Homo sapiens: one gene and its partners. The protein of the gene in region 6 purifies or fractionates together with the protein of the main gene of each other region. This does not show direct contact. Each region holds a gene or a part of one and is shown on either strand. Other genes may lie near its edges.

Evidence for each region.
Region 1: the proteins of DOK2 (region 6) and DPP7 purify together in Homo sapiens (affinity purification with mass spectrometry; one large-scale study listed by BioGRID and IntAct). This does not show direct contact.
Region 2: the proteins of DOK2 (region 6) and STK38L purify together in Homo sapiens (affinity purification with mass spectrometry; one large-scale study listed by BioGRID and IntAct). This does not show direct contact.
Region 3: the proteins of DOK2 (region 6) and LANCL2 purify together in Homo sapiens (affinity purification with mass spectrometry; 2 studies listed by BioGRID and IntAct, with this or other methods). This does not show direct contact.
Region 4: the proteins of DOK2 (region 6) and TEK purify together in Homo sapiens (affinity purification with western blotting, with the first as the bait; 2 studies listed by BioGRID). This does not show direct contact.
Region 5: the proteins of DOK2 (region 6) and TMOD3 purify together in Homo sapiens (affinity purification with mass spectrometry; one large-scale study listed by BioGRID and IntAct). This does not show direct contact.
Region 7: the proteins of DOK2 (region 6) and MINDY3 purify together in Homo sapiens (affinity purification with mass spectrometry; 2 studies listed by BioGRID and IntAct, with this or other methods). This does not show direct contact.

Annotation. Positions count from the first base shown.
Region 1 is NC_000009.12:137,111,934-137,116,090, forward strand, and holds the start of DPP7 (dipeptidyl peptidase 2 isoform 2 preproprotein), read right to left. Parts: upstream 2,801-4,157; 5' UTR 2,781-2,800; coding exon 2,714-2,780; coding exon of another isoform or gene 2,644-2,713; coding exon 2,530-2,643; intron 2,450-2,529; coding exon 2,310-2,449; intron 2,096-2,309; coding exon 1,932-2,095; intron 1,564-1,931; coding exon 1,428-1,563; intron 1,355-1,427; coding exon 1,273-1,354; intron 1,187-1,272; coding exon 1,020-1,186; intron 873-1,019; coding exon 812-872; intron 298-811; coding exon 179-297; intron 97-178; coding exon 1-96.
Region 2 is NC_000012.12:27,306,786-27,310,285, forward strand, and holds part of STK38L (serine/threonine-protein kinase 38-like), read left to right. Parts: intron 1-1,553; coding exon 1,554-1,676; intron 1,677-2,328; coding exon 2,329-2,412; intron 2,413-3,500. UniProt on the Homo sapiens protein: Involved in the regulation of structural processes in differentiating and mature neuronal cells.
Region 3 is NC_000007.14:55,427,837-55,431,336, reverse strand, and holds part of LANCL2 (lanC-like protein 2), read right to left. Parts: intron 2,963-3,500; coding exon 2,890-2,962; intron 112-2,889; coding exon 17-111; 3' UTR 1-16. UniProt on the Homo sapiens protein: Necessary for abscisic acid (ABA) binding on the cell membrane and activation of the ABA signaling pathway in granulocytes.
Region 4 is NC_000009.12:27,196,225-27,199,724, forward strand, and holds part of TEK (angiopoietin-1 receptor isoform 1 precursor), read left to right. Parts: intron 1-1,090; coding exon 1,091-1,375; intron 1,376-3,500. UniProt on the Homo sapiens protein: Tyrosine-protein kinase that acts as a cell-surface receptor for ANGPT1, ANGPT2 and ANGPT4 and regulates angiogenesis, endothelial cell survival, proliferation, migration, adhesion and cell spreading, reorganization of the actin cytoskeleton, but also maintenance of vascular quiescence.
Region 5 is NC_000015.10:51,888,653-51,892,152, reverse strand, and holds part of TMOD3 (tropomodulin-3), read right to left. Parts: intron 3,098-3,500; coding exon 3,008-3,097; intron 1-3,007. UniProt on the Homo sapiens protein: Blocks the elongation and depolymerization of the actin filaments at the pointed end. The Tmod/TM complex contributes to the formation of the short actin protofilament, which in turn defines the geometry of the membrane skeleton.
Region 6 is NC_000008.11:21,910,891-21,914,867, reverse strand, and holds the start of DOK2 (docking protein 2), read left to right. Parts: upstream 1-1,177; 5' UTR 1,178-1,266; coding exon 1,267-1,329; intron 1,330-2,357; coding exon 2,358-2,639; intron 2,640-2,879; coding exon 2,880-2,967; intron 2,968-3,977. UniProt on the Homo sapiens protein: DOK proteins are enzymatically inert adaptor or scaffolding proteins. They provide a docking platform for the assembly of multimolecular signaling complexes. DOK2 may modulate the cellular proliferation induced by IL-4, as well as IL-2 and IL-3.
Region 7 is NC_000010.11:15,777,674-15,780,507, reverse strand, and holds the end of MINDY3 (ubiquitin carboxyl-terminal hydrolase MINDY-3), read left to right. Parts: exon of another isoform or gene 1-659; intron 660-1,366; coding exon 1,367-1,516; 3' UTR 1,517-2,334; downstream 2,335-2,834. UniProt on the Homo sapiens protein: Hydrolase that can remove 'Lys-48'-linked conjugated ubiquitin from proteins.

The DNA of each region.
Region 1 (4,157 bases), on a different chromosome or scaffold from region 6:
GCAGTACCGCTGGCGGAGCTCGTCAGTGAAGGGCAGGTCCGGGAACATATCGGTCACATTGTTGCTGGCGAAGGTCAGGTTGATCTCGGTGCAGGCCTGCAGGTGCCCCAGCCTGAGTCAGGCCAGCCCACGCCCACCCTTGCCCCCGAGTGGTTCCAGGCCACCCACACCCCCACACCTGGTAGTCCCAGGCCCTGGCGTCGGGGCCGGTGCCGCAGCCAGTGGGGTCAGCACAGCTGTGGTAGAGCCGGTAGATGTCGTAGCAGTGCTCGGAGCCCGAGGCGTTGTAGACCAGCCCTGGGGAGGAGAGGCGCTGGGGCCCAGCGGCCACACACAGACACACCGCGGGCTCCGGCCACCAACCTGTCCCCCCTCGGAATGGTCCTGCAGGGGATCTGGGGCTCTGGGATCTGTAGGTCCCAGTGAGGAAGGCCCTCCAGGCTACCTGCTTGGAGGTCGGCGGTGTCTGTGCTGCCAGCCCCGGGCCTGACTGTTGAGGGCCCCCCCGCTCTCCACGGGGCAGGGTGGGGCCTGCTGCCCTCTGTTGCCCTCCATGCTGGGGACCCCAGGGGCCCCTTGGGCAGCACCCACCAAGCTGGGCCTGGCTACAGCCAGTGCTGAGAGGGTCCCCAGGGACGGCCCCTGCCTCCCCCAGGGTTTCTGGGAAGGTCGTGCTGTCCACCCCACCACAGCCCTGGGGCAGGAGGCAAAGCCCCTGGCCGGGCTGCGGATCCTCGCCCCACCCGGCCCCAGGACCCAAGCCAAGCCTGGGGTCTCCACACTTGCCCATCTGGGGCCGGGGGAAGGGCACCTGCCAGTGCTCGCAGCCCCGTGATCCTCTGGGCCTCACTCAGCAGCCGATCACAGCCCACCTGGAGTGCAGGGGCAGCGGCGACTCAGCGGGGTCCCCTCCACCAGCTCCGCCTCCCTGGCTCCCAGGATGAGGGTCAGGCCGCTGACCACCAGCCTCGGGACACTCCAGCCGGCCTCTCCCTGCGCCCTGGGAGGCGGCGCCTCACCTTGACGGGGTTGGCAGGGAGGGGACCCAGGAAGTCAGTGGGGTAGGGGTAGTCCATCATGGCCAGCACGGTGAAGGCATTCCGGGCGAACATGAAGAGCTGGGTCAGGTCCTTCTCGTCTGACAGCGGCTGGCAGGTGCCGAACTCCCAGCGGACCGTGTCGTAGGCTGCGTGGAAGGGGCAGAGACTTGAAGTTTGGGCATAGCTGGCGCTGGGGCGGGTCAGGCAGTGGGAGGCGGTGGGAGGACCTCACCTCCCTGTAGGAACAAGTCCTTGATCTGTCGGAACGCTTCCCGCACACCCTGGGTGCATTTGGGACTCTGGCCCTCAAAGTCCTGGGGGAAAGAGACCGTGCTGACTGCAGCTGCTGTCCCTTAGGGGGCCTGGAGGACCCCAAGCCTCACTCACCGCCGTGACGTCCCGGAAGAACTGGTTGGAGTCGCCGAGGCCTGCCACAGCTAGAACGGGCGCGCTGGCCGCCAGCGCCCCCGCCACCAGGTGGGGATACTTCATCCTCAGGTAGGCACTGAGCATCCCCCCATAACTGGGTGAGGGACACAGGGTTAGGGCTGCTGCCCCCAACACCCCATTTCCTCTTTTCCTCCTCAGGGGCCCACAGGTGCCACAAGGAGGACGACACTTCTGAGACCCACAAATTCCAACCCTGGGCCAGGTGCGGGTGCAGCTCTCACTGGGAAAGGCCGCTAGTGTGGCCGCACATCCAAGCTGAGCAGGTGGCTGGGAGGACAGGTGGGAGGGCTTCCTGGGGGAGGCAACACTAAGCCTGGAACCACTGCCTGAGGCCTTACGAAAAGGCAGCGGTGGGAGTCAGAGGGGAGTGGGGAGAAGGGCTGGGGGCGCTGGGTCGGGGCAGGGGAGGGAGGGGGTGCGGAGGCCGGGGGAGGCGCCCACCTTCCACCGAAGGCGATGGCGGGGGCATCCTGGGCCCCGAGGTCGCGTCGTAGCGCGCGGAGCAGCTCTGCGAAGTCGGCCAGGGCCTGCTCCACCGTCAGCAGCTCCGTGTGCCCGCGCTGCGTGGACTGCGCACCGAACGGCAGCGACTTCCCGTAGTAGCGCTGGGGGAACGTGCCATTGAGCCCGGCCCCGCGACCCCGCCCGGCACCCGCGTGCCCCGCGACCCCCGCCCGCGACCCCGCCCGGCACCCGCGTGCCCCGCGACCCCCGCCCGCGACCCCGCCCGGCACCCGCGTGCCCCGCGACCCCCGCCCGCGACCCCGCCCGGCACCCACGTGCCCCGCGACCCCGCCCGCGACCCCGCCCGGCACCCACGTGCTCCGCGAAGACCAGTAGAGCCCCCCGCTCGGCCGCCAGCTCCGCGACGAAGGCCGAGTTGTTGGCGAAGGCCCACACGTCGCCCTCGTTCCCAGTGTAGAAGAAGATGGGCCCCTCGCCCCGGACCCAGAACCTGTCTGTGGGGAGGGCGGATGAGGCGAGGGTGCCGGGGGGCGGCGGGACGGCGGGGGCGGCCGGGCCGGGGCCGGGGTCTCACCCGACACCAGGAAGCGCTGAGGGAAGGTCTTGTTGCCGAAGCGCTCGAAGTTGAAGTGGTCCAGACGCTGCTGGAAGAAGCGCTCCTGGAAGCCGGGGTCCGGGGCCCTGCGGGCTGTGGGGGGACGCGAACCTCAGAGGCGGGGCCGGGACCGGGGAATGGGCCGGGGGGCGCCGCCACTCACCCCCCGCCTGGAGGCCGCGCAGCCCGAGCGCCAGCAGCAGGACCGGGGCCCAGGGAGCGGAGCCCATGTCGCCTTCCGCGGGCGCCCGTCACGTGGGCGGGGTCACGGGGCCGCCAGGGCGCGCTCCTCCCTCCAGGCCCCACGTGTTTCGGGCGCCCGCGGTCCCCACGGAGACCGTCGCTGCTTCAGCGCCGCGCCGGGGCTGTGCCCCCCAACACCCCGCGCCCCGCGGCCGCTGCCCAGGGGTCCTTCCCGGGCACGGCGCGGGGAAGCAGAGGGCCCCCGGGCCATCTCCGCGGCCTCCCGCCCCACTGGCTCGTCCTCCTACCGCGGCCCCATCCGGAGCTGCGCTAGGGCGAGTCCCTGCTGCGCCCGCCAAGCCTCCCCAGCACTTGCTCCTGGCAGGTGCCCCACTCCAAGGCAGGGCCGGGAGAGTGGGGGCCGTTCTGCTGCCCTAAGGGCGGGAGGGAGAGGGTCCCAAACAGAGTGCTGGCCCCCCGAAGAAAGCAACCCAGGGTTTGTCCAAGCGATAACGGGCTGGGCTTGGCGGGGCGGGGCCTCGCAGCGGGCAGGAGTGTGGGGTGCCCCTGGAGCGTCTGGGCAGGGCCGGGATGTGGCCGGGTAGCTCCCAAGAGCTGGGAATCGCCACCTGCCCTTCCGACTGGCACCCAGTGTGCCCACACAGCCCTGCAGGGACAAGGGGGGACCAGAGGCCTCTGCTGGGAGCTGGGGCCTCCTCCCTGGGGAGCACCCAGAGGATGGAAGAAGTCACCTTTCCCCAGCGTCCAGTTCAGGGAGTGGGTGAGGGGGCCGTAGTGGTGGGTGCCAGACTAGCTACGTGGAGTCCTGCTGGGGATGTACATGGGCCGCTAGCCAGGCCCAGAACAGGTGCAGGGGCAGCAGGGGCTCAGCTACAGAGAGTTACCCTGTCCTTCTCCCAAGACTACCCTCGGCCAGCATGACCCTGCCCTGCCCATCCTGTGTGGGGCTGAGCGGAGAAGACCGGCCACTTCCACAGCCCCTCACGCCATGGCCCTCCCGTGCCTCACACAGAGGCACCCCCCATGGTGGGTGACTGGTGGCTGGGGCCCTCAGCATGGTGGCAGTGACCATCACGTCACACTGCAACACGAGGTCATCCAGGGCCACACACCGTCCCCACCACGGCCCTCACATCTGGGCCCTGTCCCATCCCTACGCAGTTCCTGGGGCTGCCTGCCGGGGCCCCCGCAGGACGGGGGTGAGGACAAACAGCAGACCTCCTTGGATGTGGAGGTACCCCACGGCGTCCCCCACCCCACACCTCTGCTCCTTTGGCTCCCTCGGGTGCCTTAGGTGGCCAGAACTCCACCAGCAACCCTCACCCAGGACCGCAGCTCTGGAGACGCCAGCTAGGCCGAGAGCTGGCCAGCTCCCCAAGCACACCAGAGCCTGGAGACGCTCC
Region 2 (3,500 bases), on a different chromosome or scaffold from region 6:
CAGGCTGGAGTGCAATGGGATCTCAGCTCACTGCAACCTCTGCCTCCCGGGTTCAAGTGATTCTCCTGCCTCAGCCTCCTGAGTACAGGTGCATGCCACCACGCCCGGCTAATTTTTGTATTTTTAGTAGAGACGGGGTTTTACCATGTTGGCCAGGATGGTCTCGATCTCCTGACTTCATGATCCATCCACCTCGGCCTCCCAAAGTGCTGGGATTATAGGCGTGAGCCACCACACCCGGCTTATCGCCTCACTTCTTACTGAAAAAAATAATCTTTCATTGTTGTTTGCTTACTTTTTCCATAGTACCATTGTATTTTATAATCAATATCAGATGTGGAAAAAGACATTTAAAAAAAGACATTAAAGACATTAAAAAAAGACATTAGGCAAAGCCTGTTAATTTGTGTACTTGATTTTTATCTTCATTACTGTCATAATTTACACCATTGGTGTGCCTTAGTGTATAACTTCATTTAGCTGTTTGAAGACATTTCTTGATTTCATCTTCTTAGATTAACTTTGTTAGAAGTATCAGAATTCCATTGCATTGATAATACATGTTTACATACATATTTCTAATTAATAGTTCACCTAACCCTTTTAAAAACAGATATATACAGGAGTAGGGAGAGGCTATACCATGAGCTGCATTTAGAAGCAATGTTTCTAAGCTGTTACTTTCATTTTGATTTGTCTGTCCCTCCAAACTGAACCACTAAAAGCTTGGCAGGATTCAGTTGAAGATGAACAGGAGTTAAATTTTTTCACTGATATTGTTTCTTTTCCACTTAGTGTTTCCTCTACTAGGAGCTAACTATGTCCAAAAACAGAATTTTGATTGGTGAGGGTGAAAAATGAAGTTTAGAACAATAAAATAAATACCTGTTCCAAATGTAACCTGCAGGTATTTCACAGTATTGCTTATTAATGGAAGTTATTTTTTGTGGTCTTTGTAGAATCAGTTATGAAATTACCAACTTGGATATTTTAATGACTTCTTCTTGTAATTGTTTTTGCAATTTTATATTTTCAGGAAGTTCTATGCCAGGTCTCAAGCAGTTTATTAAAATTTGCCCAAGAGTAAATTCTACCACAAGTAAATCTCTTTGGAAACACTACCATTATGTTGTTATTTTATTGTCACAAGTCTCAGTAGTTGTGAAAGAGCAACCTTGGAAATTAAGGAATTGAAGCAAAGCAGATTTCCTGACAGAATAAAAATCAGTATCAGAATACCATTAACATTTACTAACATTTAATTTTTATTTATGGAATTGTTACCATATAGATGAAAGAATAAGTTATACATATATATATATATAGACAAATATGATGGACTGAATTACATATTTAATGGAGTCCACCTCAAAAGTAAAGATTTATCAGTTGTTAAAAATTTTAGAAAGTTTTCTTTAAATTGTTTTAGCCTAATAGTATATTACATATTAGTGCTATCATTTATTTTTACGTGTATCATCTTTTAATACTAGAAGCTCCATCAAAACAACCTAATTATAAAATCATCCGTTTAAATTGTTTTTTTTTAATAGAAAAAGTTACGTCGATCACAACACGCTCGCAAAGAAACAGAGTTCTTACGGCTCAAAAGGACCAGACTTGGCTTGGATGACTTTGAGTCTCTGAAAGTTATAGGAAGAGGAGCTTTTGGAGAGGTGTGCTTCTTTTTAAAAGTCACTACTGCTGCAAATATATATCTTAAGATAATTTAAAATATGTGTTAAAATATAATTCCTGGCTGGGTGCGGTGGCTCACGCCTGTAATCCCAATACTTTGGGAGGCCGAGGCGGGTGGATCGCCTGAGGTCAGGAGTTCGAGACCAGCCTGGCCAGTGAAACCCCGTCTCTATAAAAATACAAAAATTAGCTGGGCGTGGTGGTGGGCACCTGTAATCCCAGCTACTTGGGAGGCTGAGGCAGGAGAATCGCTTGAGCCCAGGAGGCAGAAGTTGCAGTGAGCTGAGATCCCACCATTGCACTCCAGCCTGGGCAACATGAGTGAAACGCTCTCTCAAAAAAATATATATATGTGTTTGTATGTATATATAAAAAAATATATATAAATATAAATATATATAAATGTAAATATATAAATATATATAAATATATATTAATATATATAAAATATATATAAATATATATATAACATATATAAAAATATATAGATATAAAAATATATAGATATATATATATAAAATTCCTGAAATACCAACACTGGCAAATTCCTGCTTTCTTTAAGGGAAGTTACTTTTCTTTCCTGAACAAATAGTAGTGACTGTTTTATAATATATGTTTTTTATCTTTTAGGTGCGGTTGGTCCAGAAGAAAGATACAGGCCATATCTATGCAATGAAGATATTGAGAAAGTCTGATATGCTTGAAAAAGAGCAGGTATGAGTTCTTTAACACATGTAATATAAAGGAGCATCCACTGACGCAGTGTTAAGAGTGTTTATATTAGAATTTTTAAGAAGCAGTTTACACATCTTACTACATAAGCTATTAATTTTTTGGTAGCCTGTTTTAGTGTTTCTCAGTTCTTTTAAGGTTTCTTCTAAATTTATAATCTATGTATGTCTGCTTAGACTTCCATAACAGAACACAACAGGCTGGTTAGCTTAAACAACAGAAACTTATTTTCTCATAGTTCTGGAGGCTACAAGTCAAAAATGAAAGTTTGGGCAGGTTTTGGTTTCTGGTGAGGCCTCTCTTCCTGGCTTGCAGATGGCCACCTTCTCACTAAGTTTTCACATGGCCTTTCCTTGGTGTGTGCGGGGACACACACTCCTGTGAGAACTCTCTGGTGTCTCTTCTTATAAGGACATTAATTCCACCCTTATGACCTCATTAATTAACCTTAATTAATTCCCTAAGGGTCCATCTCCAAATACAGCCTCATTGGAGATTAAAGCTTTACTCTATGAATTTTGTAGATGCATGAACATTCAGTACATACCTTCTGAAATACCTCCTTTTCTGACTACAATGAAAATAAAGGACAGTTCTCAGCTCCCAGAATCCCTGTCACATATCAGATAATCAAAACTAGTCTCCTGGAAATTTGCTGATTTTACATATTTCTAAAATCTGTAACCTTGTAAATATTCTGGGCTCTCTGCATGTTTCCTGTGCCTTAATGCAGTTACAAGGGGTGGCTTCGAGTAAAGGAGGGATGGCTTTTTGAATATTTAAGGAGAGAAATTGTGAAATGGTCATTTTCAGGTGCGGGAAAGCAGACCTGCTAAGGAAATGCAGTTGAAGGCTCATTGAGATTTGCAGTCATGAATTTAAAGTGAAACCCATTGGCATAGCTGGGTGATTTTTCACCCTAGTTTCAGTTAGGTTAAGAAGGTAATAGGAACCATCAGGAGACAGGGTTATAGGGGATTTTGTTGATGACAGGCTATGATTCCCCAGAGGGAAGAGGTGTGGAAGGCAAGGAAGGTTGAGATACTGAGTTGGATTAGAGAACTATAGAT
Region 3 (3,500 bases), on a different chromosome or scaffold from region 6:
TGTCTTTTTGCACCTTTTAATCCCTCTTCGAAGAGTCAAGTTCAAATGCTGGAAACCGTGATGTCTCTGGTCCCAGGACATCAGAGAGAAAGTGAATAGCGCCAGCCATGCCTGCAATGTAAAATGAGGAGCCTCTTAGGAATGGCATAAGGGTAGTGTCTATAACAGTGACTTTTAATCATTTCCCTTACCAGGGGCTGCAAGCATGTGGGAAAGGTGCTGAGGACTCTAAAGATGACTTCATTAAAAACCAAAGATATCCTTATATTTAGCACCTGGCAGGTAATATAATAACACCAGTTTTCCTCACTATCTTATATTTAAAAAACTGGTTACTGGGCTTTAATCTTATATCTTGAAACTTTAAGGTGGCATCACAGAATCGCTATGGAAGTTATGGATGCTGCTAATTACGATATTCCTATACACGGAGCTTCCCCTCAGAGCCTGTATATGCTCAAAGTTGCATTTTATATCTTCTTGATATTTGAAGAATGTTATTTTTAACAAACCTCAATTTGGTCAAAATCCCCACCCCAAATCATTGCAGTAATTGAGCAGTGGGTTTTCAACTAGACTCACAGCAGCTTAGGAAGGGTGTGGGGTGGAGAAGGTGCTAGTAGCCCACCAAGGCCTCCAGGTCTCCTGTCCCCACTCAAATCAGAACAATCCTCCCTTACAGGGTTTTTGTTTACAGTTTTTCTTTTGATGTAAAATTCACGTACAATAAAACACATAAATCCAAAATGTACTTCTCTGAGGTTTGTAAAATGCATATACATGTGCAAACAAAACCCGATTAAGACCTGGAATATTTCCATCACCCCAGGAAGTTCCAAGTGCCCCTCTCCAGTCCCTCCCATCCCTGTGGTCCCCCCAGAGGTAACCAGCAGCCTGGTCTTGGTCCACCATGGATTAGTTCTGCCTGCTCTGGCACTCTTATGAGCATGGCCACAGTGTACAGCCCTTGTATCTGGCTCCTTCGTCAGGGTTCCTGCAATTCATTCACGTTCTGTGCCTGTTCATAGTTGGCCCCTTCTTACTGCTGAACAGTACACTGCAGATTGTTTACCCATTTTTCCTACTGACGGTCATCTGGGGTGTTCCCAGCCTTCTCTGTAAGTTTTTGTTTAAAGAAAGGTTCCAGAAACTTGTTTAAAAAATTAGAAAACCACTGACCTAGGAGTGCCCATGAGAAGTAAACAGGGACCCATAACAAGCCTAGGAGGCCCTACAGCAGGCCCTGCGGGGATGAGCCTGGCTTTCCTGCTCAGGTGTGTGGGCAGCGGATCCACTGGGCGGTGCACTCCAGCAGGAGTGAGCTCCTCCAGAAGGGGTGCCAGGTGCCAGTGAGCCCTCCCAGTGGCTCCTCCAGCCGGCCAGTTTGCCACAATGGCCTGCATTGCTAGGCACACGGCTTAATAATCCCTCCGTCCCCTGACGGGAATTTGGTGAGAGTCCCCCACAGTTCTGTCTGCCAGGCACTGGCGAGGCACAGGGGAAGGAGGTGACCTATTAACTTCCCGCCTTTAGGGAGCTGTACATCCAAAGCTTTTGACCCACTGGGGCTCTGAAGGTGCTATTATCAAGTTGATAAACTCCATTTAGAGTTCAGGCATTAACTCTGTTATATCTGATGCAAATGCATTGCATTTTTATGACATAGAGGACTACAACTTTTATTCTAGTAAGTACTTTTTCCTTATGAGTTCTCTGAATATTAAAAAAGATCATCTTCTGCAAAACATGTGACACATGCTCTGTTTTCTGCTCGTATTTCTAAAATATGATTTAAAAATATTACCAGTATGAAAACTAAAACAGGACATACCACTACAGACGATGCAGACAGAGGATGATAAGGAATACCAATAGCTTACATATTTGCATTTCACCACATGTACGTAATTAACCAATTTCCCAAAAATTACAAACTATGACAGCTCACCCAATATGAAATAGATAACTTGAACAGCCCTATAACTATTTTAAAAACGGAATTTATTTTAAAAGTCTAGAAAAATAAATCTCCAGACCTAGAAGTTTGTACTGGAGAATTCTACCAAACATTTAAGTTACACTAATACCAATTCTTCCACCAATTAACACAGTCTGTCCCAGAAAACAGAAGAGAAGAAGATACTTCTCAACATGGTTTATTAGGTCAGTATGACCCTGATACCAAAACCAGAGAAAGACAGCACAAGACAGGAAAACTGTAGGCCAATATCCTTCATGAATAGAGATGCAAAAACCTTTACCAAAATGTTAGCAAACAGAAAGCACGCCCATACCCACATACAAATCTAACGAATATCCGGGCCTGTTTGTGGGGCTTCTGTTTGTGCTCCTGTCTTCCCTTCCCTGCGCCCGTGGTGGACTCTGGAATCCTTGTTGCTTTCACTGCCTGCCTATCAGTGCTCCTCTTTTCAGAACTTTCTTCAATATTCACTCTTGCTATTTTTTCTACTTACTAATATTTCTAATTGCTAATATTAATTATTCATACTTCTTTATATGATATTAAATATATTTAAGTAATTATTCAAGCTTCCCATGAATACACCAATATTAAATATGCAACATTACAGATGAAATGCAGAGGAGTAAACTATTTCTTCCATTGCTAACAGCAAGCCTTCTACGTTCTGTCTGCATAGACACCTCACAAAAAACCTAAGAACACTTGGAAGACATTCACAGGAGCACAAAACAATAGGTAAGGTGAAGAGATTCAACATAATTTTCAGCAATAAGCTACTCTGCTGATTATTTTACAGTTTGGAAGTATTACTTGAGCCAGGTCAAATATGAACAGTGCCAGTCCACAAGGGCAGGAGAACCAATTTCACCCAAACATTTAATCTATAGCATTTTTCTCACTCTTACCTTCAAAGAGCGAATAGGGTCTGTCAGGAATGCGGCACCCGTGTGCTCCGTAATCTAGACACCACTCTGCAAACTGAAAAGAAAGGGATTTCTTTTTAAGACTGGAGTTTCTACCTGGTGAAAAGGCAATAAATGAGAATGCAATGTCTTCACAGGCATCAGGGAAGTGGACCCCCAGCTGTAGGGCATTCAGCGTGGGCTCCATGGGCTACTGCACCCCCTCTTCCAGGGGTGAGGCCCAGCAAGGCTCTGCTTGCGGCTGCCTCAGCTGTAGAGTGGGGTCTGCCTTACAGCTGCTGGGAAGTCCGAGGTGAAAACCGAACGGCTCAACGACACTCTGTTCTCCCTGGCACCTTCCTCCTGCCGCTTCAGCTGATGATTCCAGAAGCAACTCGAAACGCCTGCTCTATCCTGAACAAAAAACCCTGGCTCTAAAATGGCTCTCAGCAGCAGCTGCTGGCTCCCCTGGCCCCAGCTGGGAAACAGCTTCAGCCCTGCCTGGGGCGCCGCCTCTCACTGCAGCCCCTCCACAGCTGCTGCTGCTGCTTGGCAGCCTCTCCACCTTCCCAGCCCCCGGCCCTCAGCCCTCCCTGTGCTCTCCTCTGAGCTCC
Region 4 (3,500 bases), on a different chromosome or scaffold from region 6:
TTGAAGTCTCTTTATTGGGCTTTCATACTTATCCTAGTTATCTATTTTTCCACTGAATGGCTATATCATAATTTATTAAAGCAGTTTCCTATTTTGAGTGTTTAGGTTTCTTCCAATTGTTTGCTGTTATAAATAATGTAATGAATCATTTTGGTAGGGAAAAAAGTATCATATGGGCCACTTGCTTGTGTTTCTTTGATAGCTTATGAGGTGGTATCTTATTCTAGAAGCCAAGGTTACTCTTAAAAGGTGCCCTTTAGCGCTGTCATTGACTCCACCCTTGTATTAGTCTGTACTTGCATTGCTATAAAGAAATACCTGACACTGGGTAATTTGGAAGAAAAGAGGTTTGGCTTTTTACCAAGCCAAACAGTAAAAACAGTAACCATTGGCTCATGGTTCTGCATGCCGTATAGGAAGCATCTGCTTTTGGGGAGGCCTGAGGGAGCTTTTACTCATGGCAGAAGGCAAAGTGGGAGCAGGCACTTTGCATGGTGAAAGCAGGAGCAGAAGAGTGAGGGGGGGCGGTGCTATACACTTTTTTTTTTTTTTTTTTTTTTTACTGTTTCATAATTTATTTATTTTTCCATGGAAATTATTTAACATTTTATTTTCTGACAAAGCTCCTGTTTATTTTATTTTTTATTTTTTATTATACTTTAAGTTTTAGGGTACATGTGCACAACGTGCAGGTTAGTTACATATGTATACACGTGCCATGTTGGTGTGCTGCACCCATTAACTCGTCATTTAACTTTAGGTATATCTCCTAATGCTATCCCTCCCCCCTCCCCCGGCAATTGAACAATGAGAACATATGGAAACAGGAAGGGGAACATCACACACTGGGGCCTGTTATATACTTTCAAATGACCAGATTTCATCAGAACTCACTCGGTATCAGGAGGACAGCACCAAGGGGGATGGTACTAAACCATTCATGGGAAGTCACACTCATCAACCAATCACCTCCCACCAGGCCCCACCTCCAACACTGGGGATTACATTTCAGTATGAGATTTGGGTGGGGACACTAATCCAAACTATATCAGCCATATATAAAAATAATGATTTTTCTGGATTCTCCTAGGACTCCCTCCTCCAAGAGGTCTAAATCTCCTGCCTAAAAGTCAGACCACTCTAAATTTGACCTGGCAACCAATATTTCCAAGCTCGGAAGATGACTTTTATGTTGAAGTGGAGAGAAGGTCTGTGCAAAAAAGTGATCAGCAGAATATTAAAGTTCCAGGCAACTTGACTTCGGTGCTACTTAACAACTTACATCCCAGGGAGCAGTACGTGGTCCGAGCTAGAGTCAACACCAAGGCCCAGGGGGAATGGAGTGAAGATCTCACTGCTTGGACCCTTAGTGACAGTAAGTAATTCATGCTGCTCCAGCCTCATCTGAGCAATAAGGGGCTACCGCCATGCAGACTTAGCTAACATCACTGCAGGACTATTGGAAATTATGAAAGAAAGTTAGTTGTGAGAGAAGGCTAATTAGTGCCCCCCACCTAATCATTTTAATAACTTGCAATATATAACATATATTTGGATTTGCAATAATTCAGGCAGGTCTGTGCTAAAATTTACCTTCCCTTGGTGTGCAGTTGTTTATTTAGTAAATTAGTAACAAGAAGTTTTTCTAGGGCTTGTTGAACCATTTATGGGGTAGTTTTGAAGAATTATCATATATCTACATGTACACAGATGTCAGTTAATTCCAGATGGGTCTTACCTAACCATAAAAACCAAATAACTTTGCTTGAAACCCCTTGAAAACAGGTAATTTTAAAAGTTAAAAGATTTATCTAGGAGTAATAAAATCACTTTTTTTTTCCAAAGTATTTTGCATTTCAGGCTTCTCAATTTCAGATTGGTCATTTAAAATTAATGGGAATTTCTTGGGTTTCTTTGTAGTATTGAAAGTCTATTCATTACTAAACTAAGCAGAGAGTTTTATTTTGATTCACTGAAATTAGAACTGTGTGCATTTGGAACCCTTGGAAAGGTAAACTATTTCTTGGCCACACACAACTACCACTGAAGTCAGGATCATGTGGTCTATGGCCTTACCACCCTGAACACACTGGATCTCATTGATCCTGGAAGCTAAGCAGGGTCAGGCCTGGATGGGAGATTATGTGGTCCCTTGCCACCTCCCAGAGTCTGAGGCTGTCTTTGCAGCTGGTTCTCCACTTCCTCAGGAACAGGTGTGGAAGCTGGCTCAGTGTTTCTTTGGCCACTCTTTTATTGCATCAGTGACTTATGAAAGTCTGAATTGTTTTGTCAGTGTTTAGGAATTCTTCATATATAATGTTTAATTCTGTGAAATTTCCAAGGTGCAGAATCATGCTAACAGTAACACAACGAACAATCACATTCCTCCCATCCAGAATTAACAACTGTTAACATTTTGTCATATTTGCTTTCAGCATTTGTTGTTGACTTATGTAATAACCCACTACAGGTGTATCAGTATCTCCTGCAACTGTTATCCCTATCTATTTCTATTCCCCTCTCCCAAGAGACAACCAAAATTATGAGTTTGTTAAGTATATTTTAATTTAATGTTGTATGTATATATTTTTTGAGACAAGGTCTTGCTCTGTTGCCCAGGCTGGTGAGCAGTGGTGCCATTATGGCTTCTGCAGCCTTGGCTTCCTGGGCCCAAGCAATCCTCCCACCTCAGCCTCCTGAGTAGCTGGGACCACAGGCACACGCCACCACACCTGACTTTTTTTAAAAATTTTTTTGTAGAGATGGGATCTCCCTATGTTGCCCAGGCTGGTCTGGAACTCCTGGGCTCAAGCAATCCTCCCGCCTTCGCCTCCCAAAGTGCTGGAATTACAGGCATGAGCCACTGTGCCAAGCCCAATGTTCTATAATTTTAATATCTCTGAAAGTATACACATGCATACATATCATTCTTCATTTTTTGAATGGACATTATGAATTTTATCGATCCATGTTTATTTAGCTTTGATGCATGTAATTTTAACTTCTGTATAATATTCTATCTTATGAATGTATCTTGTCATTCATCCTCTCCCTTTTAGAGGGAGATGTAGGTTTTTTCATTTTTTACTATCATGAACAAAATGCAATGCCCATTCTTATGCATGTCTCCATGTGCATAGACAGGTGTGAGAGTTTTTCTAGGAACAAGTCCGGTGGTGGAACTCATGGGCTATTTCCCTCTAAAGTGGTTAGTCAGTGTGTACTATGTTCAGGAGTGTATGACAGTGCCATTTTCCTTATACCCATCTCTATGTCTATATCCTTTCCCTATATCACTCGATAGTGTCACACCTTTTTACTTTGCGTATCTCAAAAGCAAAATATGGTGCCTCATTGTTAATTTCAATTTTGATTTCCTTGATAGCTAGCAAAGGTGAGCATCTTTTTATGTTAATTGTCCTCTTTTTTGATATACTTATTGATATACTGGATGTCCTCTTTTTTGATATACTTATTGATATCCTTTGCTCATTTGGAAT
Region 5 (3,500 bases), on a different chromosome or scaffold from region 6:
ATCTTGAGACAGGGTGCACTGATTATCCAATAAATTCCATCTAAGAGTATCTTGTTACTTTCAAATATCACACACACACAGCATCTTGAGAAGATCAACTTAGATGAAGGTTTGAAAATTACTTTCCCGAGGTCAGGTGAAAAATCTGAATATATTTAGTCTGGAGAAGTACCTATTAAAAGAAGTTATCCTAGCTGTTTTCAGATTTATCCTGTAGAAGTTGAGAAGAGACAAATTTAGTGCTGTTCTGAGAGGCTGCGTTAGAACAAGTATAGATTGCCAAGAAGCAGAACTTGGTTCAAGACAAGGAAAAGCTTCCTAATGGAGCTCTGCTAAACAACAGAGAGTGGGATCCCTCTCACTTAAGTTCAGCAAGGTAGTCTTCAAGATAGCTAGGGAAGAACTTCCTCATTGAATGGAAAATTGAATAGTTCTAATTTTATAAAACCAAAAGATTTCTTTCCCCATTCCACACATCCTGTGGAGTGGGGAAAGATGGAATGGGGAGAGAAATCTTAAGAGCCTTGCCCCTTAATGAAATAATGAATCCAGTCAATGGGATGCAGGAATTATTAAGCAAAAGGTTCATGGGAAACTTAAAAAGGATGGGTCAGGCTGCCTACATTTGAACCCTGTGATCAATCTCATTCCCCCAAAGAGGAAGGATTAGACTTCATAAGCTTCTTAATATGATTCAGTCACCACCCATGAAGCATTCTTGCCAAAAGGGACCTGCACCTGCATCTCATCAAGCCACTAGAACTAACAGTTTACAGAAACATAGGTGATAGAAAAACATAAAATGATACCATAAGGTTGAAATCAGCCAAATCCAGAATGTGGAAAATTCTACGAAAAATAAACCCAGTTTCTTAAAAAATAAATGGCACAGAAAAAAAAAAAAAAAAGGAAAGAGGTTGGGGAGGAGAACTGTTAAGAAATTAAGGGAGACTAAAAAGACAAACAACCAAATGCAGTGTGTAACCTTTTTTGAGCCAATCATGAAACGACATTTTGGAGAGAACAGAGGAAATCTGGACACAGACTGGGTATTACATGATATGAAGAAAATACCGTTAATTTTTAAGTTTGATGATGGCATCATGATTACATTAAAAGAAAAGCCTTTATTTGTGAGACACACATATGGAAATATTTATAGGTATGTAATACAAATGAACAGGGTTTGCTTTAAAATACGTCAAGAAAAAAAAGTAGAAGGGTTAGGAAGGGAGACAGAAGATGAATAAAACAAGGCTGGCAAATGTTAAAAACAGCGGAAACTGGGTAATGAATATATTATTCTCTCTTCTTCTATGTGTGTTTGAACATTTCTACAATAAAAACTTAAAAATGAGAAGGGGGATGGTCAAATTACAAAACATCGTAGAAAGGAATGTTATACACATGTCTGAATGATGTAGATGTATACATATTAACTAGAAAACACGGTCGACTGCTAAGTGATACACTATATAACACGGGTTAAAATCCTTACCACTGACTTTGTGTAAAATATTGAGGTTACCCAATTATTTTAAAATGTCAGCTTTCTCACATGCAAATTAAAAATAATAATATCTATTTCATAGAACTGTTGTCAGGGCTAATAAGAGTACTTCACGTCCAAGAGCTGTGCACACAACATGGCCCACAGTAAGCATTCAAAAACAGTTGGCCAGGCACAGTGGCTCATGCCTGTAATCCCAGCACTTTGGGAGGCTGAGGTGGGCAGATCACCTGAGGTCAGGAGTTCGAGACCAGCCTGGCCAACATCGCAAAACCCCATCTCTACTAAAAAAAAAAAAAAAAAAATTAGCTGGACAAGGTGGCGTGCACCTGTCAAATCCTAGATACTCAGGTGGCTAAGGCAAGAGAAGCGCTTGAACCTGAGAGGCGGAGGTTGCAGTAAGCCAAGATGGTACCACTGCACTCCAGCCTGGGTGACAGAGCAAGACTCCGTTTCCAAAAAAAAAAAAAAAATTAGCTAATAGAATTATTATTGAAAAATTAAGTTGCAATAAATATTTACAGTATAATCGATTTTTTGTAAAAAATAAGAGACTATGTATAATATGTATACATTAGTATAAACAGTGCAAAGCCTGGAAGGGTATATACAAAATTGTTAACAGGGTAGGTGGTGTTTGGGGAAGTAGAGGGCATGATGGCTGGAGACAGAGACACTTTTACCTCTTCCCATAAATACTTATGTACTGTTTAAATGTGCTACAAAGGCATGTATCACCTTGCTAATTTAAGAACACCCTATACATGAATTTATTTTTTGAGATAGGGTCTTGCACTGTTGCCCAGGCTCGAGTGCAGTAGTGTGATCACAGCTCACTGCAGCCTCAAGCTCCTGGGCTCAAGCCATCCTCCCCTCAGCCTCCCAAGTAGCTGAGACTAGAGACATGTGCCACCATGCCCAGCTAATTTTTAAAATTTTTTAGAGATGGGGGTCTACGTTTCCAATGCTGGTCCTGAACTCCTGGACTCAAGCAATCCTCCTGCCTCAGCCTCAGAAAATGAAATTACAGTCATGATCCACCACACCTGGCCCCTATAAATGAGTTTCTGAAAAGCTTTGCTTTAGGCTATATAATACTTCACATCAGACTGAAAGGTTTAGGGGCTGAATAGTTTTGTGGTATCTCCTGAATCTGATTTTATAATGTAATTTCTTTGTAAGTACTGTTATGTATTTCTTGAAAATTAGTAGTAGTGATAATAAAATGTCAACAAAACCAAGTTGGACTAGCTTTTATACTGTTTAGCATTATTTAGTGAGGTAGAGTGGTTCTTATTACATTTGCTGACCCATTAAACACAAAATATTTAATACTCTATTTTCAATGGCTTTCTTGGTTAATACCACCAAACTGAAATGTCAGGTTTCAAGTACATATATATAACATCTAGTATGTGAACACTTAAGCTGACACAAGGCGAAAACAAAATATATTTAATAAAGGATTAGAATTCACAAAGCATTTTAAGTACTCACTTGAAAAATGTTCTTGGTCAACACCATTACTACTTCCCATTATATTACAGAACTTTGTATTCGTTATCAAATTGTGCATCCCAAGAATTGCTATAAATACAGAAAAAGAAAGTTTTTATTGTTTTAAACATGAAGAGTTTTACAACTAAAAATTTCTATCAATAATTTTAATATCCTCTGGACCTTTTCCTATAAATTACAGATCACACACCCACACAGAAAACAAAATGATTAAAAATCACCTATAATCTCATTCTCCTCAATACTCTTATTATTTTCCCCCACATTTCTAAATTTACATTTCCCCACATTTCCAAATTCAGAGTTGGAGGCAGCCTAATCCTGAACATAAATCTATGCTTAGCTCCATCTAGTGGCTAAGAGAGAAAATGGAAATGATCTATTTTTGCCGTTCATTAATTTCACAAGGTTTCTAGGAACATAATATGACAAAAAGCAGATTTTTAACTTAACCTTCATATTTTAATGTGTG
Region 6 (3,977 bases):
TAACCCCAAGAGTGTTGGTCTGAGTCTCAGTTTTTTCCAACCCTTCTGCACTGTGCCTCCATACAGATTGCTTCTCTAAACCATCTGGCTTTAAGTTAAACTTCTCTGAGCAGCTTGGATTTCCCCACAGCAATGGATCTTTTTGCATGGATCTGGATTCCATTTAGGGGCCCTGCAAAATGTTGAATTAAAGATCAGGAGCCCTGGTCTCTACTTCTTCCTCTGCCCCCAACTACCTCTGTGACCTCAGGCAAGTTGCAAATAAGTGTGTTCATACCTGCCCTGCCTTTGTCAAAGGATGGCGTGGCTGATGAAAAGTGTGTGCCTAGAAGCTTTGCGAGCTACGAAGCACTTTCGGTAACTCTGAACCATTTTCAAAATGTATATGAAAGTGATTGCTATTGAAACTTAAGATAATTTGCAGATGAAACCTAAGCATCTTTCTAATGCTCAGGAATGCTTGCAAGAAGGCAAAAATCCAACAGTTGAGATGTACTTGGGGAGTCAGTCCCTTCTCCAGAGGGGATGATCATCTTTCTAGAATCTTTACAGGGTTGGTGTGAGTGTGTGTTGTTGGCAGACAGGGAGTGCTCGCATGTAGTTAAACGGTTGCCTCTCTCTCTCTCTCTCTCTCTGTGTGTGTGTGTTTGTGAAACTGGTATCTGGTTAGGCCCACATGAGCTGTCTTATGTGTCTCTCTGTGCAGTGCCGTGTGTGTCATTCAGCTGTTAAGCGTTGAGAGACCTGGGTTCTGGTTTGGTGACCTTGAATAAATCCCTCAGACTTTCCAAGCCTGTTTCCTTATTTGTAACTTAGTGGTTTGTCCCTTCCAACTTGCGTACAGCTTGGAGGGGGGGGCCTTCACTACTGATTTCACTGTCTAGTTTGGTTTCTGGGTCTCTGTTCCAGTGGGCCAGCCACTCTTTGCTGGCGCCTCCCTGTGCCAACTTCTGTACCTGAATTGTTGCTCACTGAAGAGCTGGCATTTAGCTTTTTGGAAATTGTCTCTAACTCACTGGAAATGCAGGAAGCTTGAGTATAAAACTCACTCAGAAAAAAAAAAAAAAAAGAAAAAAAAGAACACACACTCAGAAGAAACCGCAGGGCCTATCAGCCTGTCGTCATCGAGCAGACTAGAATAGTATAGAAAACCCTAGGCAGAGAGGAAATGAACTTCAGAGAAGGGAAACACACGGCTAAGAAGAGAGAGGCAAGGGCAGGAGTGAAGGAGAGAGCTGAAGCCTGGGGCTCCGAGATGGTCAGAGGATGGGAGACGGGGCAGTGAAACAAGGCTTCTTGTATCTTCAGCAGCAGCAGACGTTTGGAAAGGTAGGAGTGAGGCTGGGCTGGGGTTGGGCAGGGGGCCTGGGAGGCTGCTAGAATTCCTGGGTTGGAGAGGGAGTTTCATATTCAAAACCCTTATAGGTCTGACTGTGCACCCACCAAGTTAGACCCAGAGCTCAACTTTGGGAGGGCTCTTTTCCTACCCGACGCTGTCTCCTGAACCAGGCCCCAACCAGGTCCCAAACTGTGCTCCTTACTGAGGGCTGTTTGCCCTGGGTGGGGGTGGGGGATGTGCTGCTTTCATCTCTTGCCTCTTTTGCTCTCTTGCTCTATGTTGACTTCTTTTCACCGGACACCTTGGAAGGGAATGGAAGGGGCAGCTGGAGGGACAGTTTAGGATGACAATAGAGGTTCCTTCCCAACCCCAGTGGGGTGCATGTGGCTGGTGTTCAGCTTGGGCTGGGGCCTCTGGGGGCCTGGACCCCAGCCGGCTGTCCATCCTCTTTCCCCTTCCCTGGCCTCCTTGAACCAGGAAGTCCTCGTCCCCTAACCAACACTGGGGGGCACACCTGTCTCTCTCTCATGGCCCAACCTATCAAGGAATGAGGCAGCAAGGTTCAGGAGGGTGGAGAGAAGTTCTCCTTCAGGATTTCGCACAGAAGGAGAATGAGGTCTCCAGCCCGGGTCACACGCCGCCCTCCTCACTCCCTCCTCTGGGCCTCGGCCACTGCCCCGCTTTCCTCCCCAGACTGGAGTCCACTGCGGTGGGCCTGTTTGGCCTTCTTGCAGCCTGCTTTGGGCTCATCCCGGCGTTGCTTTCTGCCTGGGCAGTCTCTGCTCTTGCTCGTGGGCCTCCTTCTCGGGGCTGGCGGCTGATCTCCGATTTTCTAATTCCTGCAGTCACTGTCCTCTTCTCTGCCTCCCTGGGTCTCATGTGATCTTCACCTCTCTCTCCCCATCTCCAAGTGGCTGCCCCAGTCCCCCTCCCACGGTTCCTCTTCTCCCCTTGGCTCACGATCTCCCCGTCTCTGGGTGGCTCCCTCCCGCCCCCGCCTCCCACGCCTCTGGCACAGAAATGGCGCCGCTTCGGCGCCTCACTGTATGGAGGGTCGGACTGCGCCTTGGCCCGGCTGGAGCTGCAGGAGGGCCCGGAGAAGCCTCGTCGGTGTGAGGCTGCCCGGAAGGTCATCCGCCTCAGTGACTGCCTGCGGGTGGCCGAGGCCGGCGGAGAGGCCAGCAGCCCCCGGGACACCAGTGCCTTCTTCCTGGAGACCAAGGAGCGCCTGTACCTCCTGGCGGCCCCTGCAGCGGAGCGCGGCGACTGGGTGCAGGCCATCTGCCTCCTGGCCTTCCCCGTGAGTCGCGCGGGGTGCGGAAAGGGCAAGGGGGCGTGCAGGCCGAGGGTGTTAGATACTTCCTGTGGGCAAGTGTTACAGGTGTCAAGGTCAGGGTGATGGGGTGCTTCCTCCATGTGGGGGGACCCGAACCCAGTGTGCAGACAGAGCCAGCAGGTTGAGGTGGCCTGAAAGAAGGCCTGGGCCAGAGGGGGGCCTGGGGATCGGGGAAGGTGATGAGACGGGGCGCCTCCTCCCTAGGGGCAGAGGAAGGAGCTCTCGGGGCCAGAGGGAAAGCAGAGCCGGCCCTGCATGGAGGAAAATGAATTGTACAGCAGCGCAGTCACAGGTGAGGGGGCGGGGGCTGCCCTGCTCTCCCCTGGGGGCTCTCCCCAGGGTGAGGTGGAGAGGAGGTGTGGGCTGGCTAGCTGCTGGCCCCGAGTCTTCCTGCCTTGTGGTTATCCCCAGCCTGGGCCAGCCCCGTTATCAGCCTCTCCTTCTCGCTTCCGGGTGCAGCCCAACGTAGGGAGCCTACCCTGCCTTGAGTCTCTCCCTTGGTTCACCTCATCTTACCTAGGGCCTGCTGGTGGGAGAGGGGAAGGCTGGGGGCCCAGGTGAGGGTGCTGCTTTTTTCTATTTTTGAGACGGAGTTTTGCTCTTGTCGCTCAGGCTGGAGTGCAATGGCACAATCTCGGCTCACTGCAACCGCCGCTTCCCGGGTTCAAGCGATTCTCCTGCCTCAGCCTCCTGAGCAGCTGGGATTACAGGCGTCGGCCACCACGCCTGGCTAATTTTTTGTATTTTTAGTAGAGTCGGGGTTTCACCATGTTGGCCAGGCTGGTCTCAAACTCCTGACATCAGGTGATCCACCTGCCTCAGCCTCCCAAAGTGTTGGGATTACAGGCATGAGCCACTGCGCCTGGCCCCAGGTGTTGCTTTTGAGGAGCTGGTGGAGGGAGGAGAAACTTTCATCTGCCTTCCATCTAAGCTTCACCCCCAGGGCCCCGGCAGTGGGAGGGCAGGGCCAAGGCTTCACCTGCAGCTGTGACCGTAGGGACTAGGGTGGTGGCTGGTTTGGGGTGAGAGATGGGGTGGGGAAGACAAGACTGTGGCTCTGGCGACAGGGGCAGGAAGGATGTGGGCACGAGGTTGGGGTGGATGTGGGTAGGGGCGTGATGCCTACTAGGGTAGGGGGTGGAGGTACCTGGCCTTTTGGGGAGTATGACCTGGCACAGAGCAGCTCAGCCTCCAAGACCCAGGCAGGGGGCCATAAGTGTGTGGATAATACTTTCTAGAAAAGTTCTGGTACGCTCATTTAGAACTGGGCAGTGGTGAGGCAGGCCAGCTGTTTCCCATTAA
Region 7 (2,834 bases), on a different chromosome or scaffold from region 6:
GACATGAGTACATGAAGTTCTTTGTGAAAAATAGGGCCGATTGTATTTAACTTAATAACTTGAATTATATTCTTTGTGTATAACTTTTCAGAGAAGGCAGTTTTGCTTTGGGGACTGAAAAGCCCGAGTTGTAGTTTCAATGTCAATTTATTTCATCAACACTAGAAACTAATATATTAACTAAAATAAAGATGCCAAAAAATGTATTTCACGTTACAATGTATCTTTAGCACTTTCTTAGGAATGAGTAGATTCATGACACAAGATTATCTGATCTAGTAATATATTCTATTCCTATATTTAATGTGTTTTAGAGGCAACTACCATTTAAGGATAATAAAGTTGTTTCTTTTGGCTCCTTAAATAGCTTATGGCTTTTATTTTGGAAGAACATAATTACACTCATGTGTATCAGCCAGTGAATGTGTAAAAATAATTTTATACACTTTGGAAGAAGACAGTCGTCTGTATCTGTTTCTTTTAAATTATACAGCATCAGAATTTCTCTTGGTACAAAAAAGAAATTAACCACCAAGGAGTGCCTTAATGTCCACAGTGAGCCCTTGGTAATGAGTTAGGGTTTTTGTTGATATGTCCAAAATACTTTTTAAGTATGTTTCATTGTAAATTAATCAGAATAAAATTTTTCTTGCTATTCACCTGCCAGTATATATTTCTGTGATCACTGCCACTGCATATACAGTATCTGGTTAGTTTGATCTTTCAACGTCTCTTTTACTTTTCTTTCTGTCCTGACATCCTTTTTAATTTTTTTCTCCATGATTTTTCATGCTGTACAGAATGCACTCATGAATTGCATTTCAGGAATATTTAATACCATAATAGCAAGTTTTGTTGACAAACATTCAAATTGGTTTCAGCTCTAGAAATTCAATACTTAAATTAGAAGGAGACACATGTTCCTCAGAACATAATAGCTATATTCCTTTTATAGCTCTCCGTTTCATTAGGCAGCATGAGCATCTGAGAACCTCAGTATTAAAGCAGTAGGACCTGTATAAATTATATGTAAATATGATAATTAAGCATTTCTTTCCGATGGTATAGATCCGTTGAAGAATGTTTTTTTTCTTAGAAACAATCTATGTGTTTTAGGATTCACATGATCTTGAATTTTTTAAAAATCACCTGGCCAGCTAGCAATTAAATATCGTTTACAAATTTACTTTCACATTAATCAGTAAGCAGATATTCCTTCTCATTTCTAGCAAAATAAAATTACATGTCAAGTTTCATCTGAAACTATGTAATACCTTATTTGCTAGCCTCTAAAAATTGTTTTCATTCCACATAAGAATTTGCTAAGACTGTTGCTTGACCTTGGTGGCTTTATTTTGTTCAACAGGTCATGTACGTAGAAGGGACTGCAGTTGTGATGGGTTTTGAAGATCCCATGCTACAGACAGATGACACTCCTATTAAACGCTGTCTGCAAACCAAATGGCCATACATTGAGTTACTCTGGACCACAGATCGCTCTCCTTCACTAAATTAATTTGTCTAAGTATTTATAAGGAAGATCTTAATAACAGATGTTGAAAGAAGGAGTCAAGACTGGCAATTGGCTGGATTAAGCTAAACACTGGTATCACTGATTAACTGTAAATAACAATTAAAAACACATTTTCAGTGTTTATGATATGTTTAAATTATTTGTCCTAAAGCTTTATGTTAAAGATTATCCTATTTTACCCCTTCGTGTGAAATTTACTAGCAAAATTAAGCTTTCATCAAAGTTCATCACTTTTGCATTCAGATACTTGGTCATTTACTTACCAAATTACAAACGCAATACTACAGCATTTGTATATTAAGTATCACAGTTACTATTGATAAACTACTTTTGGGTTTTATTTCATTGAGGCACTTTTTTTATTGTTTGAATGATTCCGGCTTGTAATATATCAGCCTCTACAATGAAATGCAGAAGAGTTCATTTTTCTAAGATCTGTTTTTCATTAGAAATATTGACAAATAACACATTGTCAACCTGGATCCTTTGACAATTTACTTAACTCTGGCATGTTCACAAAAAGTAGAAACTCTAAGAGACCATTACCATTTATTCACAGATGTATAGGGGATGTATTCTAAAAACTGACAGAAAAGAGAATCTGATAGTCAACACTGTTAACTTTTACTGTGTAATTGCCAAATACACTTTTCCAAATTTGTCCCAACAGCCCTGTAAGCCAGCTTTCTTCTATATTTATAAACACGATAAATGCATGAGAAGATCTGTTATTACATTAGTATATTACGTTATTTATTATGATCCTAGTTGATGGCCTAAATAAACACCTTTTTCTTTAACTGTACCCTTGCATTTTTTACATTGGTGGCTCAAAATAAACAAATACGTACTTCTAAATGTTTCTACCCAATAACCCTGAGAGCACAGAGTACTACAAATGGCTAAGTCATACAGGACCTCGAATAAGAGACCAGGCCTTATGCTAACCTAAGAGCTCTGCTAACTCAGCCAGCCAGAAGCATGAGAACCCACATGGCAGCTTTCTAGACCAGTGAGCAAAGATGCAGAAGCCCGTTTACTTGAGAGAGAGATCTGCTGTATTCTGATAGGTTTGTGGCCCAGCAATTTAAAATCACATAGCCATTAATACTTTTTTTCCTCCACGTGTAAAGCCACGTGTAAAGCAGATAATTATGTAGTATCCTCTTACACATTTCAGAACTGAACATTACCTTCAATAGTATAGTTCCTGTGTGAATTTCTGTTTGGGTTTTGTTTTCTTTCGTACACACACACAATTACAATATAATTAAGCATAGGGAAAGGCATGAGATTTTGT